2 separate regions of the Homo sapiens genome follow, and region 2 is linked to region 1. Evidence: fine-mapped expression QTL. Tissue or cell type: whole blood. Region 1 holds a variant in brackets; the other region holds the start of a gene. All regions are shown on one strand. Distances are from middle to middle.

Region 1 (8,108 bases):
ACTTTTTGAAGCAGAGTCAGATGTTCATGCCAGCTTGAAAAAATATGCAGCTGATGCAAGGAGGTAAGAGTTAAGAATACAGATTATACCTACAGCAGCCTATGCTATTAAGGAAAAAACAACTATTTGCCAAGCAGCCATCTTTGTAGATATTGGCAGATAGAGGAGTCCCCCCCGTGTCTGCAGGGGATATGCCACAAGATCCCCAGTGAATACTTGAAACTGTGGATAGTGCTGAACCCTATATACCTATATGTGCTCTTTTTCTGATCTGATAACCAAGAGAGATACTAAGTGACTAAAGAGTGGGTGGTGTGTACAGCATGGATATGCTGGACAAAGGTATGATTCACACTGAGAGCAGGACAGTGCAAGATTTCATCATGCTAATTAGAATGGCGTGCAATTTAAAACTTATGAATTATTATGGGCCAGGCACAGTGGCTTACGCCTGTAATCCCAGCACTTTGGGAGGCTGAGGCAGGCGGATCACCTGAGGTCAGGAGTTTGAGACCAGCCTGGCCAACATGGTGAAACCCCATCTCTAATAAAAAAATACAAAAATTAACAGGGCATGGTAGTGGGTGCCTGTAATCCCAGCTACTCGGAAGGCTGAGGCAGGAGAATCGCTTGAACCCAGGAGGTGGAGGTTGCAGTGAGCCAAGATTGCACCATTGCATTCCAGCCTGGGCAACAAAAGCGGAACTCCATCTCAAAAAAACAAAAAACAAAATAAAAAAAAACTGTGTAGGGTGGGTATTATTTTTTGTGGTTTTCTAGGCTAAGAAATGGTATTCTTGAAAGTTCAAAGGCTTGAGTGAAGGGCCTTAGGCCAGCAACCAGTTGAGTTGGCACTCAAGTGCAGGTCTTCTAACTGCATCCCAGGCTCTTCCAGTGAACCCTGCTTTCATACTGCTAGCAGTAGCATCTTGGAATCTTAAGTGTAGTAATCTTAAGAATGATGTTTTGGGCCGGGAGCAGTGGCTCATGCCTGTAATCCTAGCACTTTGGGAGGTCAAGGCAGGCGGATCACCTGAGGTCAGGAGTTCGAGACCAGCCTGGCCAACGTGGCAAAACCCTGTCTCTACTAAAAATACAAAACTTAGCTGGGTGTGGTGGTGGGTGCCTGTAATCCCAGCTACTTGGGAGGCTGAGGCAAGAGAATCTCTTGAACCTGGCAGGCAGAGGTTGCAGTGAGCTGAGATCACACTACTGCACTCCAGTCTGGGTGACAGAGTGAGACTCTGTCTCAAAAAAAAAAAAGAAGAAGAAGAAGAAGAGGAATATTTTGCCTTTTTCTCCCCTCAAAAAACAAAATTCAGGTACTTCTGTTGACCTTTTGTTTACCAAGTGCAGAAAAATCAACGTTGTTATATGAAAATTTCTTCAAGAGTGGTTTGTACAAGAGTCTACAATTCCTGGACCAACTGTAGAACCCAGAGCTTTCAAAAGGATGGAGCCTATTCACGTCCTATCAATAGAACAGATTCACGCAGCATAAGGTTTTTATTTATTGCAAGTGGTTGTTCTAGTTAAAGAGGCTATAATGAAAAAAATATAATAACCTTGGCTTAAAATAAAGAAATGCTTGGTTTGAGATAGAATCCTGATGAGCTATGATTAATTTTTTGGAAAATGGGTCTCTTCATATGAGATTAAAATTGTCATGAATATTTTTCCAAGGGCAACATAAAAAAGGAAATAGACCATTATTTGTGTGGCATCTCTGCTCATTGTAATTAAATGGGCCTTTATAAATGGAGTCAGATCAATTATTCCCTTCTGGTACACAATCACCTTTTCCAAAGTCATGTAAGGCAGGCTTTCTTTGTTGGGGGATGTCTCACCCCAAGGGATAGTAGGGATGTAAGGATACGGTAAGGCCTAGGAGTTGTGGGGGAAAGAAGACAGGAAAAGAAGGGAAGTGGAGAGAAATTGGTTAGGGTACTTTGTTTTTCTTTTCCCCTTAAAATTAGAGAAAGTACAAAAGACTTGTCTTGCATCTTTTAAATCTCTAAATACTGTAAAACATAATTTTAGTGAAAATGGAGAGGTTTTTTAAAAAACGTGCGAGACATTTTTATGGTTACAAACTGAATTTTATGAATTTATTTTTAAGATGCTAAAATTGGTACGCATTGAATATAGTGCTGTTTCTCTAAGAGTCTCCTCTCCCCAACTCATTATCTTTTCCAAGACTGGAATAAGGGAGATTGGTACATGACTAAAATATCCTCAACCTTCATATATGTGCCCCTGAGCCAAGCTTAGAGTACTTTATTCATGAGATGGGATGGTTTCTAAGGTTTCTTATAACTCTAAAATGTTTGAATTTATATGAGAATGATAGTCCAGACCCGTGTATGACAGATGGAGGAACTGAATTGTCTCTCAATGTAACCTTTTTTTTTTTTTTTTTTTTTTGAGAGCTGGAGTCTTGCTATGTTGTCCTGGCTGGTCTCAAACTGCAGGGCTCAAGTGATCCTCTTGCTTCAGCCTCCAGAGTAGGTGGTACTACAGGCGTGCACCACCACACCCCACTCTAGCTTATATTTTAATATGCCTAATGTTCTGTCTTATACATACATTTCTTACCAGCATGTAAGAAATGTAATTTCTATAGGGAGGAATTCAAGAAGTATTGAGAAGATGATTTTAATAAATCAGCTGTGTTGGCCTAGCTTTATTTACTCATTTAACAAACATTGAGCAGAATGACCTCTGCTTTATGCCAGACATGGTGCTAGCTGCAGGGAATACAAATATGACAAATAATGCTCCCTGTTTAAGAAACAGACTCTTTGCTTAATATATTAAGTGCCTCGTAGGGTTATATAGAAGGTTTCTAGGAGCACAGCAGAGAGTGGAAGTAGCTTTACCTTGGAGGAAATAGGAATAGTGAAAAATATGTCCACGGATGCAGTAACATGACTTGAATCTTAAAGAATGTTATAATAATGTTATAATATGGAAAAAGTGAGGAAGGGTGATATGACAGAAATTTCATAATGGATAGTACCTAAAACTTACAGGGGAAGGCAGGCTGTTTATTTGGAGCAGATGTGGGGACAAAGGAGAGTCAACATATATATTTTGGTTTTATTAATAGAAAAAACACAAATAACACACAAGTTTATGTAAATTAGACTTCTTTTGTAACATTCTCAGACTTAATATCCCCAGCCACCTAGGGGAAAAACTTGAGGAAAGTCCTTCTAAAATCTATAAAATTATTTTTATAGAAAGAGAAATTTAAAAGGAAATGCCAATTTGTTGAGCAAAATGAAAATGATGATGGCCAGAGCTGGAAGTATGGTAAACATAAAGCCATTCTGAATATATTTATCACCTTTCTTGGCTTGTACCTAAAAATGTGTGAGTTTTAATATTGAGAGGTGTTTCAGCAGCATCTTGAGACTATTTGAGGGTTCAGTTCCTTTTCTGTCAATTCCAGACTTGACCTTGAATGAATTCTGAATACTCTGTGTCGTAAACAGCAGTGTGACTGTAGGAGTGGTGCATGTGCTCTTGCAGGTGATGGAATGGCTTGAGGCCAGTGAGGATATTCATTATTCTATAGCACTATCGTTATAAATAATATTTGCTTTCTGCTTTTCCACAATTGTAGTTATCTGGTTTTCAATGGAGCAGTAGATAGAAAGGGAGTGAATAGTATCAGTGTAGCTTAGCTTCATTCTCCACTTTTTATGCCAGAGTTGCATTTCTGCCTCCATTTCTAGTTAGTTGACTGCCTCGAGCAGTTCATACC[A/G]GTTTTTTTCTTCTTGGTGTTTGGTCTTAGCCACTAGGCTGAGAGGCAGTTGGCCAAGACCATCTGATAATTATTTTCATCTGAAAATAAAGTTGGGATGGGTCATGACTATATGTAACCACAACTGTAAGTAGTGGGATGCTAGCTCATACAATTTCAGATACCGACTGATTTGTCAATAGGCATCAATAGTATTGAGTATCTGTATATATCATGGAATTCTTTAAGTCTTTAAGAATTTACAACCACAAGATTTTACTGTGAGATATTTAAACAAAACATTTGAATAAATGGAGAGCCCGGAGGGAATGCCACATTGTCATTCTTTAATTGAAATGTTTAATGTAATCCCAATCAAAACTGAGACTAAACAGGTGAGGATAAGCAATAAGTTTTTAAAAAAGAAGAACAAAGTAGACTTGCACTACTAGAAATGTTGAAACCCATTTTAGATGTAGCATAACTAAAACTAGGGCATTGTGAAAGAACAGAAAAATAAGATAATAAACAGACTATACTTCTGGAATCAGAATCTTGTAGGTACAAGCTGTCCAATCACTTTAAACATTCACCGGGATCAGCCATTGGATGAGGATGCTACGGAAAGAGCGTGATCTTGGACAAGGCAACTCTGCAGCTGAGGCTGACACCCAAAAGCTGTCTGCTGGTGATACTCCCACAATTAGGGCAACATGAGTTTCACTGAAGGGGTAATTGTGTGGCTCATATCATATTCATTGCAACCTCCAAATCCAATTGTTTGTGCATCTTTATCCTACACACTTGTGGGATATTGATTTTAACTTATTTCAACTCCTACTCTGGAAAAAAGAGAGAGGCTGTGTCATTTCTTAGACCTTTGTAATGAGGCAAGGATCAGAGTCCCAGAAGAAGTACTACTCCAAAAACTTTGGTAAAGTGCTTATTCTTCCCTAGCAGTAGGCTGTTGCTGAGTTGTAGACTGGTGGTTTTATGAAAAAAAACAGGTTGGGGAGGTGTGAAGATGGAAATGAGGGCTGTGTTATGTATATCTGGTATCTACTTCTGTTCCAGGTGCTTAATTCACCCTCATACTGATGTTTAAAGTTAGAGGATTCTTGTCCATTTGTCTTGTCTTCTGTTGGCAGGGTCACATGCAGGGTAATAGGCTATGGGAAGGGGGAAGATGCCTAGATTTACTTCTAGGCTGGTCTCCAAGCCCCAAGTTCAAGCCTCCTGAGTAGCTGAGACTACAGGCACACACCATCGTTCTCAACTTTTCTTTTTTAACATAGGCTAGCTAGCTCCCACCTTAGCCTTCTAGACCCCTCCATTATAATTCTTATTCAATTGCCTTGGCCCAGAAAGAGACAGTTCCTGTCCTATTCTTATATATGCACATCTATTTTTGATTCACAGAACTCGATGGTGGAGGTGGAGGCAGTTGATGGAATTCTGAAAGTCCACCCAACCATGTCCCTGGTCAATAGCATGCATGTACCATATTCCTTGGAAAGGAAACGTGGTGGGAGTCTGCTGGATTCTTCTGGGGAAATTTTCTCTCTATAAAAGGGACATATCACAGAGACATACAATCTCTGCCTCCGAACATTGTTGTCTGCATGCGATGCATGGAATGGCAATGGCCCTCCAGGAAAGGAGCCAGCCTAAGGGAAAAGAGAGGAGGGTGGGAAAATCCCAGATCATTTGTGCCATTGTTGAGCAACTGAACAAAACAGAACCAAGTCCTTGTCTTCTTGAAGCTTAATTTGAGTCAAGACATATAGACAAGCATGTACATTATTAAAATACACTACCTAGTGTATTAGAAGGTGGTAAGTACAATGGGATAAAATAAAGCAGGGAAGGGCATGAGGAGTGCTGGGGGGGATGGTTGCATTTATTAAAGGGTGGGCAAGGCAGGCTTCTCTGAGAAGGTAACATTTGCTCAAGGACCCACCAGAGACAAGGGATGTGGAAGAGCATTCCAAACATAGGGAATGGTAAGTTTAAGTCCCGAGTGTACGTGGACAACATTCTGTATCTAAACAACTGCTAGGATCCCCTATGGCTAGAACTGAGGAGCAACGGGGAGAGTAGTTGGAGGTGAGTTCAGCCAATAAACTCACACCGTTTATTAGGCTGTTGCCACAGCCTTTTGGCTCTTACTCTGAGTGAGAGGGAAATCTCTGGAGGTTTGTGAAGAGGTGGGTATCATGGTCTGACCTACGTTAAATAGGAAAAGCCGGGAACGATGGTGTGTGCCTATAGTCCCAGCTACTAAGGAGGCTTAAGCCCAGGCTTGAGACCCCATCTCTTAAAAGAAAAAAAAAAATGGAAAGGCTCACAATAGAGGCAGTGAAGAAAAGTTGTTTTTTAAAAAAGGCAGTGGTCACTGTATTAGTACATGATTCTGGGAAATCTAGGTATGAGTTCAGAAATTTTAATTAACCTGAAAAACTTGTACCAGAAGCCATTTGCTTATGCTAATGTGAATACAAAGAGCTTGCTTTGGTTCATTACTAAATAACATTCTTCGTGAAAGTGTCATTGAATCTTTTTAGCAACATATCTATACAAAACTCTACAATGTAAGTATGTACATTCAGCAAATCCTGTGAGATGCAGAAGAGTGAATTTGGTTCAGGAGTTGTGAGTTGGCTTTTATTGGTAGAAAATTTCCTGAATGTCAATACCTAATACTAGTATGGAAAAATAATTTGCTTTTCAAAATAAATAGATAAATTTACCTTATGTTATTCTTGAATGAAGTTTTTCATTTAATCAAAGGTATTTTTAAGCTTTTGTTTTGGGGCTTTTTTTTTCCCTTGTGGATCTGTGGCTATAATAAAGTCAGCATTCTTTATTTACTGGTGATAAATTCTGTGAAATGTTAAAGTAGACATGTTGGACCAGCTATTGTGAAATTACAGCTCTGTCTCTAACTTCCCATTACATGAGCACACCTATAACTCATTTATATTAGCACAGTAAGTATACCTTTAACACCAAATAAGGTATTTTCTAGGTCAATTCTTCTTTTCAGTTTATTCATGGATTTCTACCTAGGGTCAGTACTTTTCATTAAGTCTAACTAAGAATCAGATCTCTCATGAACCAACTCTTTAGTTTTAGACAGAAATCCTTTTAGGTCAAGAATACATACCTCCTACGAGGATTAATCCTGCATGCTCTGTGATGAGCTGACATTGACTTTGACTAAAGAAAGATTTATTTTTGGAAGCAGGATTTTAAAATTAGTTCTTTTGAATTCTCAGCAAGTTCTAAAGAATAAGCATTCCTAGCTCACTGGACTTGACTAAGTAAGCTGAGTGGAGATGGTTGAGGAGAGAAAGAGAATCTAGCCTTTATGGACTGCCGTCTGCGTACCATAGGTATCATGTGAGCCTCACATCATCATTTGGGTAAAATTATCTTCATTTTCACCAAAGGATGGTGAGGCTCAAAGAGGATGTGTGACTTGCTTAAAGTCATTTTGCAAATATATGTGGAAATGAAATTGATGCTCATGTCTGTGTGACCTCAGAGCCTGTGCTATCTCTTCACAGGGGCTGTCTATTGAAGGCAAAAGTAAATACTGTACATTAACTCAGATGAGTTTTGTTCCTCCAGGGTCTCATTTCTGAAGCTATTATTTTCATCAGCACTGTTTGGACCTTAATAGACTTGTGTAAAGTAGAATACTGAGTTGTTTCTCATGTTACTTTATTCCTTTATTACTGTGCATTTTGTGTGGATTTTAAAATGTAGTGATTATTAACTATTAACCAAGCTCCCAAATTATAAGATCCCATTCATTTTATTTCCATTGTGATAAGATAGACTTTTTGTTTTAATGTGTCACACTTTAAAATATTTTACAACATGAAGACTTCTTCCTGAAGTTACAAAGCACCAATTTACAATTAAAATCACAAAGCCAGTGATATTTAAAGAGTATATAACTTTATGATATGAATCATGTTTTATTATTTGTACCTAAGGGTCTAAAAGTAGTTTTCATTATTGATTTACAAAAGAAGAACTGATTAAGGAACATTCAGCCAGCTCTCTGTGACGACATTAGAATTTTTATTGCAGAACTAATGTGTTGACTCTATATCATCTCTTAGATGGTCTCATGATTGCTTAAAATTATCCTGGTGTAAATTTTGTATCAAATTGGGTGGGGAGAAACGTCTGAAAGGATAATGCTATCAAATGCCTTAATCTTCACTGCCATGTACTAATTTTCCCTGTCTCTCCCCGTTTGTGTTTTCTTTTTCCCTAGAAGAAAAATTCAAAGTGGAGACAAGAACCATTGCTGTTGACTTTGCATCAGAAGATATTTATGATAAAA
Region 2 (8,108 bases), 110 kb before region 1:
ACCCTTAGAATTATTATCCTTAAGTTCTTGCTTTACAAAAAACACTCAAGTCTTGAATCAGCAGCCCCTACTGGCTAAGAACAAATTTTAGGTACCTTTCTGAGCCCAAATCCATGCCAGAGAAGGAAACAAAAACTCTTGAAGGAAGGTAGAGAGTAAGTGTGAAGCACTTTATTGTTTTACACAATTTTTTTAAATTATACTTTAAGTTCTAGGGTACATGTCCACAATGTGCAGGTTTGTTACATATGTATACATGTGCCATGTTGGTGTGCTGCACCCACTAACTCGTCATTTACATTAGGTTTATCTCCTAATGCTATTCCTCCCCACCCCCCCACCACCCCATGACAGGCCCCAGTGTGTGATGTTCCCTTTCCTGTGTCCAAGTGTTCTCATTGTTCAATTCCCACCTATGAGTGAGAACATGTGGTGTTGGGTTTTTGTCCTTGCGATAGTTTGCTGAGAATGATGGTTTCCAGCTTCATCCATGTCCCTACAAAGGACATGAACTCATCCTTTTATATGGCTGTATAGTATTCCATGGTGTATATGTGCCACTTTTTGTTAATCCAGTCTATCATTGTTGGACATTCGGGTTGGTTCCAAATGTGAATAGTGCTGCAATAAACATACGCGTGCATGTGTCTTTATAGCAGCATGATTTATAATCCTTTGGGTATATACCCAGTAATGGGAAGGTTGGGTCAAATGGTATTTCTGGTTCTAGATCCTTGAGGAATCACCACACTGTCTTTCACAATGGTTGAACTAGTTTACAGTCCCACCAACAGTGTAAAAGTGTTCTTATTTCTCCACATCCTCTCCAGAACCTGTTGTTGCCTGACTTTTTAATGATTGCCATTCTAACTGGTATGAGATGGTATCTCATTGTGGTTTTGATTTGCGTTTCTCTGATGGCCAGTGATGATGAGCATTTTTTCATGTGTCTGTTGCCTGCATAAATGTCTTCTTTTGAGAAGTATCTGTTCATATCTTTTGCCCACTTGTTGATGGGGTTGTTTGTTTTTTTCTTGTAAATTTGTTTGAGTTCTTTGTAGATTCTGGATATTAGCCCTTTGTAAGATGAGTAGATTGCAAAAATTTTCTCCCATTCTGTAGGTTGCCTGTTCACTCTGATGGTAGTTTCTTTTGCTGTGCAGAAGCTCTTTAGTTTAATTAGATCCCATTTGTCAATTTTGGCTTTTGTTGCCATTGCTTTTGGTGCTTTAGACATGAAGTCCTTGCCCATGCCTATGTCCTGAATGGTATTGCCTAGGTTTTCTTCTAGGGTTTTTTATAGTTTTAGGTCTAACATGTAAGTCTTTAATCCATCTTGAATTAATTTTTGTATAAGGTGTAAGGAAGGGATCCAGTTTCAGCTTCCTACATATGGCTAGCCAGTTTTCCCAGCACCATTTATTAAATAGGAAATCCTTTCCCCATTTCTTGTTTTTGCCAGGTTCATCAAAGATCAGATAGTTGTAGATGTGTGGTGTTATTTCTGAGGGCTCTGTTCTGTTCCATTGGTTTATATCTCTGTTTTGGTGCCAGTACCATGCTGTTTTGATTACTGTAGCCTTGTAGTATAGTTTGAAGTCAGGTAGTGTGATGCCTCCAGCTTTGTTCTTTTGGCTTAGGATTGACTTGGCAATGCGGGCTCTTTTTTGGTTCCATATGAACTTTAAAGTAGTTGTTTCCAATTCTGTGAAGAAAGTCATTGGTAGCTTGATGGGGATGGCATTGAATCTATACATTACCTTGGGCAGTATGGCCATTTTCACGATATTGATTCTTCCTATCCATGAGCATGGAACGTTCTTCCATTTGTTTGTGTCCTCTTTTATTTCGTTGAGCAGTGGTTTGTAGTTCTCCTTGAAGAGGTCCTTCACATCCCTTGTAAGTTGGATTCCTAGGTATTTTATTTTCTTTGAAGCAATTGTGAAGGGGAGTTCAGTCATGATTTGGCTCTCTGTTTGTCTGTTATTGGTGTATAAGAATGCCTGTGATTTTTGCACATTGAGTTACAAGACAGGGATGCCCTCTCTCACCACTCCTATTCAACATAGTGTTGGAAGTTCTGGCCAGGGCAATCAGGCAGGAGAAAGAAATAAAGAGTATTCAGTTAGGAAAAGAGGCAGTCAAATTGTCCCTGTTTGCAGATGACATAATTGTATATTTAGAAAACCCCATCGTCTCAGCCCAAAATCTCCTTAAGTTTTACACAATTTTTTAAACTTACCTTGTGATCTTTCTCCTCTGCAACTTTGCTAACGTAGTTCCCATGCCTCTATCTGGACTTCACACTTCTGTGCCCCCTGGAAATACCACTCCCCCACTCCCCAACCAAAAAAGGGAAATTTAAAAAAGAAAGTAAAATTTTCTATCCCCCTTTGAAGACAAATTAAAAGATATAGTCTCCTTCCAAAACTAATTGTTCAGCAAGCTGTGTTCCTATATTTTTCATTCACCATACAGCTCTGATGCCATCGTCTAACAGTTATTAGACTCCATCAGGTTATTTGCCTTGAACCCCAAATCGTTGGGAACTAAGTGATGTTTAGTGCTCAGCTGGGAGGGAGGTCTGGCATTTAAGGGCTCTCTATGAGTGAGTGTAACCCGGGCGAATGCCTGCAGCGAGGAAGGCACAGACACAGAAGACTGCAAGCCTTTATCTGGAAAAGTTTATGGCAACAATGACAGCACGCTTAACAATGATATATTTATTATATAATTATATCATATATGTAAAATATATATTTATTTAATAAAGAGTTGAAAATAAAACTGTGGCTCCACACCTATTTCTTTTCTTTTTTTTTTTGTTTTTGTTTTGGGATGGAGTCTCACTCCGTCGCTCAGGCTGGAATGCAGTGGCGCGATCTCGGCTCACTGCAACCTCTGCCTCCCGGGTTCGTGATTCTCCTGCCTCAGCCTCCCGAGTAGCTGAGATTACAGGCGCACGCCACCACGCCCGGCTAATTTTTGTATTTTTAGTAGAGACGGGGTTCGGATGTTGGCCAGGCTGGTCTCGGACTCCTAAGCTCAAGCGATTCGCCCGCCTCGGCCTCCCAAAGTGCTGGGATTACAGGTGTTAGCCACCGCGCCCTGCCTACGCCCACTTCTTACTATAATCTTTCCATTCACTAGCGGCTTCTCTGATCCCATTTCCTCTTCGAACCTGAGCTCAAACCAGCCTGGGTCTGACCGGCCAATCCGAGCGCAGTCTTCCGCAGTCGCGAGTACGGCTGCAGCCAATGAGAGACCGGGGCGCCTCGGTGGGGTGAGACAGGGCGCTCACTGGCGGAACCCCGGGGGACGCGGTGATGGGAGGAGTGTGGGAGGGGCAGTGGAACTGGAGTCAGCTAATGGCTGACGCACTACGCGCAGAGGGAAAGACGGGTCACCAATAGCGACACGGATATGGCCCCGCGGGCGGGGTTTAGGCCCAAAGTGGTGTCGGAGCAGCGCCTATTAGTGTCATCCTCACCGTCACGGCCGGCGCCTCCTCCTGGATTCATTCACTCGCTCTTTTCATTCACGAAGGTAGTGAGGCCTAGTGGAAAGCCATGGAGAGCGCTCTCCCCGCCGCCGGCTTCCTGTACTGGGTCGGCGCGGGCACCGTGGCCTACCTAGCCCTGCGTATTTCGTACTCGCTCTTCACGGCCCTCCGGGTCTGGGGAGTGGGGAATGAGGCGGGGGTCGGCCCGGGGCTCGGAGAATGGGCAGGTGAGTCGGATGCAGCGCCGCGTCCTCGCTCCCGCGGCGGCCCGGACCAGGCCTGGGCCGTGATGACTAGTTCTGGGGTCTGCTCCTGGCCTTCCCCTCCCCAGCTCTCCTCTTTCTCAGGCTCCTGTGCCCCGCGGGCCCCTCCTGGCTCCCTTGGCTGTCTTCTGCTTGCTTAGACTACTTGCAGAGTTTTAAGGTACGAAATACACTGCTCGCTCAATCCTGGGAATCTAAGCTCAGCTTAGGGTGTAGGAGAAAACTGCCTTAAGTCTCTGGGGCTTGTGCCCTTTAAGCCATTCCGTGTTCATGGAGCCAGTCAGTCGCCCTGCTGCCTCCTCAGTCACACGCTGTCCTCCTTGGTTCGCCCCTTGTAAGTGTTTTTAAAATAAAGTTTTTCGCTCGGTTTGAATATTGGCCCTGTGCTAAGGATGCAGAGCATTCTGTTAACATGTTTGGGCAGAGGATGGAAAGGGGTGTAGGGACACAATTTCAGAAGGCTTTTTGCACTGCGGAATCGTACCTCCCCAGTTACGATTAAGATAGTAATCGTATCTGGATTTGGCCTATTTCATACAATTACAAAGCCCCTTTAAAAGGAATTCTCGCTAAACTGTTCTGGAGTCCTAACGAGTAGCAAGAACTATTGCTTCTGTAAAATGATAACTCATCATGTTAAAATCAGATTTTTTTTTTTTTTTCACAAGGACGTTTGTAGGAAAAAGTATACCCGTAAAGAGTGAACCAAACACATGGAACTTGTAGTCGGAGGATTTTTAAAATGGAGGACGAAGGTCAGGTTGAGGAAATAGGGAAAATTATCTGCAGGGAAGTTTTGCTCCCCCCCCCCTTTTTTTTTTCTTTTTCAACCTATTTTGTTTCCTTCTTTGCTTTATTTTTCGTCTCTTGGCCTTTTTTCCCTTTAAACCGAGTGATTACTTATGATATGCTTGTGGTCCTACCCTGAGATGATTATTTATTTTGATGTTTTATAATCGAATGTGCACTTCCTAAGCATTTTATTGAATTTTGGGGTGGTTAGGCATTGCCTGCAGACTGGGCTCAGGTAAGATACACTAATAATGTTACTCCATGTTCTTTGTTTATTTAGAAACATTTAAACAACCTAGTAGGAAAGACATATGTTAACCTTTTGGGTTTATGTTAACATTAAGAGAAAACATCTTAGCAGTGGATATGTATGTGAAATCTTTGGACGATGTGGAGCAACATTATAATTCTGTTTCACAGTCACCTGTTTCTCTGAAAAAGGAAGTGAAATGTTCAGCTGGGTGTGATGGCTCACGCCTGTAATCCCAGCATTTTGGGAGGCCGAGGCGAGTGGATCACAAGGTCAGGAGTTTGAGACCAGCCTGACCAACACGGTGAAACCCCGTCTGTACTAAAAATACAAAAATTAGCTGGGCGTGGTGGCGCGCCCCTGTAGTCCCAGAGGCTGAGGCAAGAGAATCGCTTGAACCCAGGAGGCGGAGTTTGCAGTGAGCCGAGATCATGCCACTGCACTCCATCCAGCCTGGGTGACAGAGCGAGACTCATCTCAAAAAAAAAAAAAAAAAAAAAACAGAAAGTGAAGTATTCAACTTGGTTATAATTAAGATTATGATTTCCCAATTGACTTGCCCACATTCTTCATTGTTAGTTTTGGAAAACCTGTTTGAAGACTTTTGACTACAAAAGACTACAAGATTTTTATACAAGATAAAAATTAGGGAATTGTATCAAGATAAAATTTGTAATTGGTAAGCAAAGACTAATGTTAATAACTTGTTGTTTTCTTTTCTTTTCTTTTTTTTTTTGAGACAGGGTCTCACTTTGTCACCCAGGCTGGAGGGCAGTGGTGTGGTGGTGTGATCATAGCCAACTGCAGCCTCGAACTCTTGGGTTCAAGTGATCCTCCCATGTGAGCCTCCTGAGTAGCTGGGACTACAGGTGTGCATCACCACACCAGCTCATTTTTTTTGTTTTTTGTAGAGACAAGGCCTCACTCTGTTTCAGAGGCTGGTCTGGAAGACCTGAGATCAAGCAATCCTCCTGCTTCAGCCTCCCAAAGTGCTGGGATTACATGTGTGAGCCACCATGCCTGGATGTGTTTTTTTTTGTTTTTTTTTTTTTTTCTCTTTAAAATTGACCATATTGGTTGATTATTCAAATGATAAGTCCAAGTCATCTACATATGAGTGTACAGTAAAAGGCAAGTGATGTAACACCATAAGTAACATTTGTGTTGAAAAGATTTGGCCCCAGAGGAAGGATAATTGATAAATTAAGGGAAGTATTTGTGTAAGATTTAGATATGAAATTTGAACTGGAACACTGGAACAGCAGAGGATCATAGTATCATAATTGAAGTGAAATGCTGACAGGTTCAATTTACCCTGGGTTTTGGATTTTTTTTTTTTAAATGCTTAAGCAGAAGAAGTGATCTTAAAAGAAAATACTCCCTTTATCTTCAAATTCTGGGACTCTTCAAAAACAAAATTAAGAGCAGCTCATCTTAAACAGGTTCTTCACATGAGTTGGAGGGGTGAACTGAAATAATTTGAAAAACAAACTAGCAGAGATGACACTTGAATAATTAGAGTTGTGATTAAAAATATTGTTCCACCAAAGTTATGATTTTAGAATTGTTGTATGTAAATAGTACTAGTAAGTTTTTTCCCTACGAAATTACTATCTTAATCTCAAGAGTCTCTGTTCTTATGCAGCCTTTGAATCTACTTTCTAGTACTAATATTTAATATTTTCCTCTTTAAAACCAATTATATATTTTAAGTATTTTATTAGTATATGTTGAATTGATACTATATTTTTATTCTTGTTATTCTTAGTCTCTTCATGTGAGTATCTTCATGTGAGTATGTTTAATCTGTCTGCCTCAGATTTTAGGATCTGAGGGGCAGAAAGCGTGGATTCTCACTTTTTGTCTTTTCTCACAAATTGGCTCTTCTAAATTTAAGAACAAAAACTTTGAAAAACTTGAAATACAGGTATGCTTCACAATCAGTAAAATATTCTAGATAACAGTTTCCTTAGTGTTGTTAGGCTTTCAAGACTGTCCATTACTTGGCTGGCCCACACTCTAATTTATCTCCATCTCCTGGTCAAGAGCTGGGCCATCTCTTTCTCCTAGTTCTCACCAGTAACATTCCCACTCAGGTGAATCCCCTGTGTTCCCTATACCCCTAGAAGGTGGGTTTAGCCAATTTAGTAAGTAAGACTTCTTTGTCATTGTTACCCGAATACTTCCTGTATTTCTTAGGAGAACAAAAGGAGATCCTGTGAATGTGGAGTTTCAGGTGTTTGAAGGTCAGTGTAGCAAGTAATCAAAAAAAGATTGATAACAAAGGTGGTCAGTTTGTATTAAATAAAGGAAAGAACAGTCACTGCTATAGAGCAATAAAAAATGTGATCTGTAGAATGTGGTTTGACCATAAATACATTTTGCAAGTATTTGAGTAGTTTCCATTGCTGGAGTTCATCTAAAATGATTGCTATTGAAATAAAGTGGAGATGATAGATGCAAAGGCAAGGTAAGTAGACTTCCAATGTCAAGATATTTTATAACTTTAAACATAAGACAGCACTCTGAGCACTTATTTTTAGTTTTTAATGAAGAGGATATTGTTACACGCAGTGAAGAATAAATGATCCACTAATCAGTTAGTGAGTTAGATTTTTTAAAACAACTTTAGTGGGATATAATTAATATACCATACAATTTGCCCATTTAAAGTGTACAATTCAAGGTTTTTACTTATGTTCACAGGGTTGTGCAACCATCATCAAATCTAATTTCAGAACATTTTCATCTTCCTTAAAAGAAATGCTGTACCCATTAGGCCCTTCACTCCCTGACCCCCACCCGCTCCAGCCCTAGTCAACTACCAATCTACTTTCTGTCTACGTAGGTTTGCCTGTTCTGGATATTTCATATAAATGGAATCATACAATAGGTGTTCTTTTTTGTTAGTGGCTCTTTGATTTTTGCATAATGTTTTCAAGTTTCATCTATGAAATCTGTACTTCATTTTGTTTGTATTGCTGAATAATATTCTGTTTTGTGGAGTGAGGTCAGATTTCACAAAAAAAGTCTTCAACCCTTTGTTCTACCCTCTGGATGTTTACATTAGCAAATCTCTAAGATGTAGCTTCTGGTTGCTGATGGAACTCGTTTGGCTTTGCAGTATTCCAAGGTTCTCCTAATTCAGTAGATAGTGAGGACTTAAAAATGGCATGGAATGGTGTGGTTCTCCTCTGGAAAAACCATTCATGAAAACATGCATCAAAGGATTCTCAAAATCACAGGTATAATCACAATTTCTGTTTTCACATTGGTTAACTGCACAGGGTTAACCTCAAAT

What was found. PIP is the estimated chance that this variant, and not a neighbour inherited with it, causes the effect.
Region 2: HSD17B12 starts here. The variant in region 1 is fine-mapped to the expression of HSD17B12 in whole blood (INTERVAL, PIP above 0.99).

What each region holds. Positions count from the first base shown.
Region 1 is chr11:43,790,281-43,798,388 of GRCh38, forward strand. HSD17B12 (hydroxysteroid 17-beta dehydrogenase 12) reads left to right here. Exons shown (of 11, transcript NM_016142.3): 4 at 8,040-8,108. Among named protein-coding and RNA genes, the nearest start is that of ALKBH3, 86 kb to the right of the region's middle. The variant A/G (reference allele first, on the strand shown) is at 3,770.
Region 2 is chr11:43,677,259-43,685,366 of GRCh38, forward strand. It overlaps HSD17B12 (hydroxysteroid 17-beta dehydrogenase 12), which reads left to right and starts at 3,480. Exons shown (of 11, transcript NM_016142.3): 1 at 3,480-3,729. The coding sequence starts at 3,570. RefSeq lists enhancers at 3,075-3,124, 3,335-3,900, 3,975-4,024, 4,175-4,234.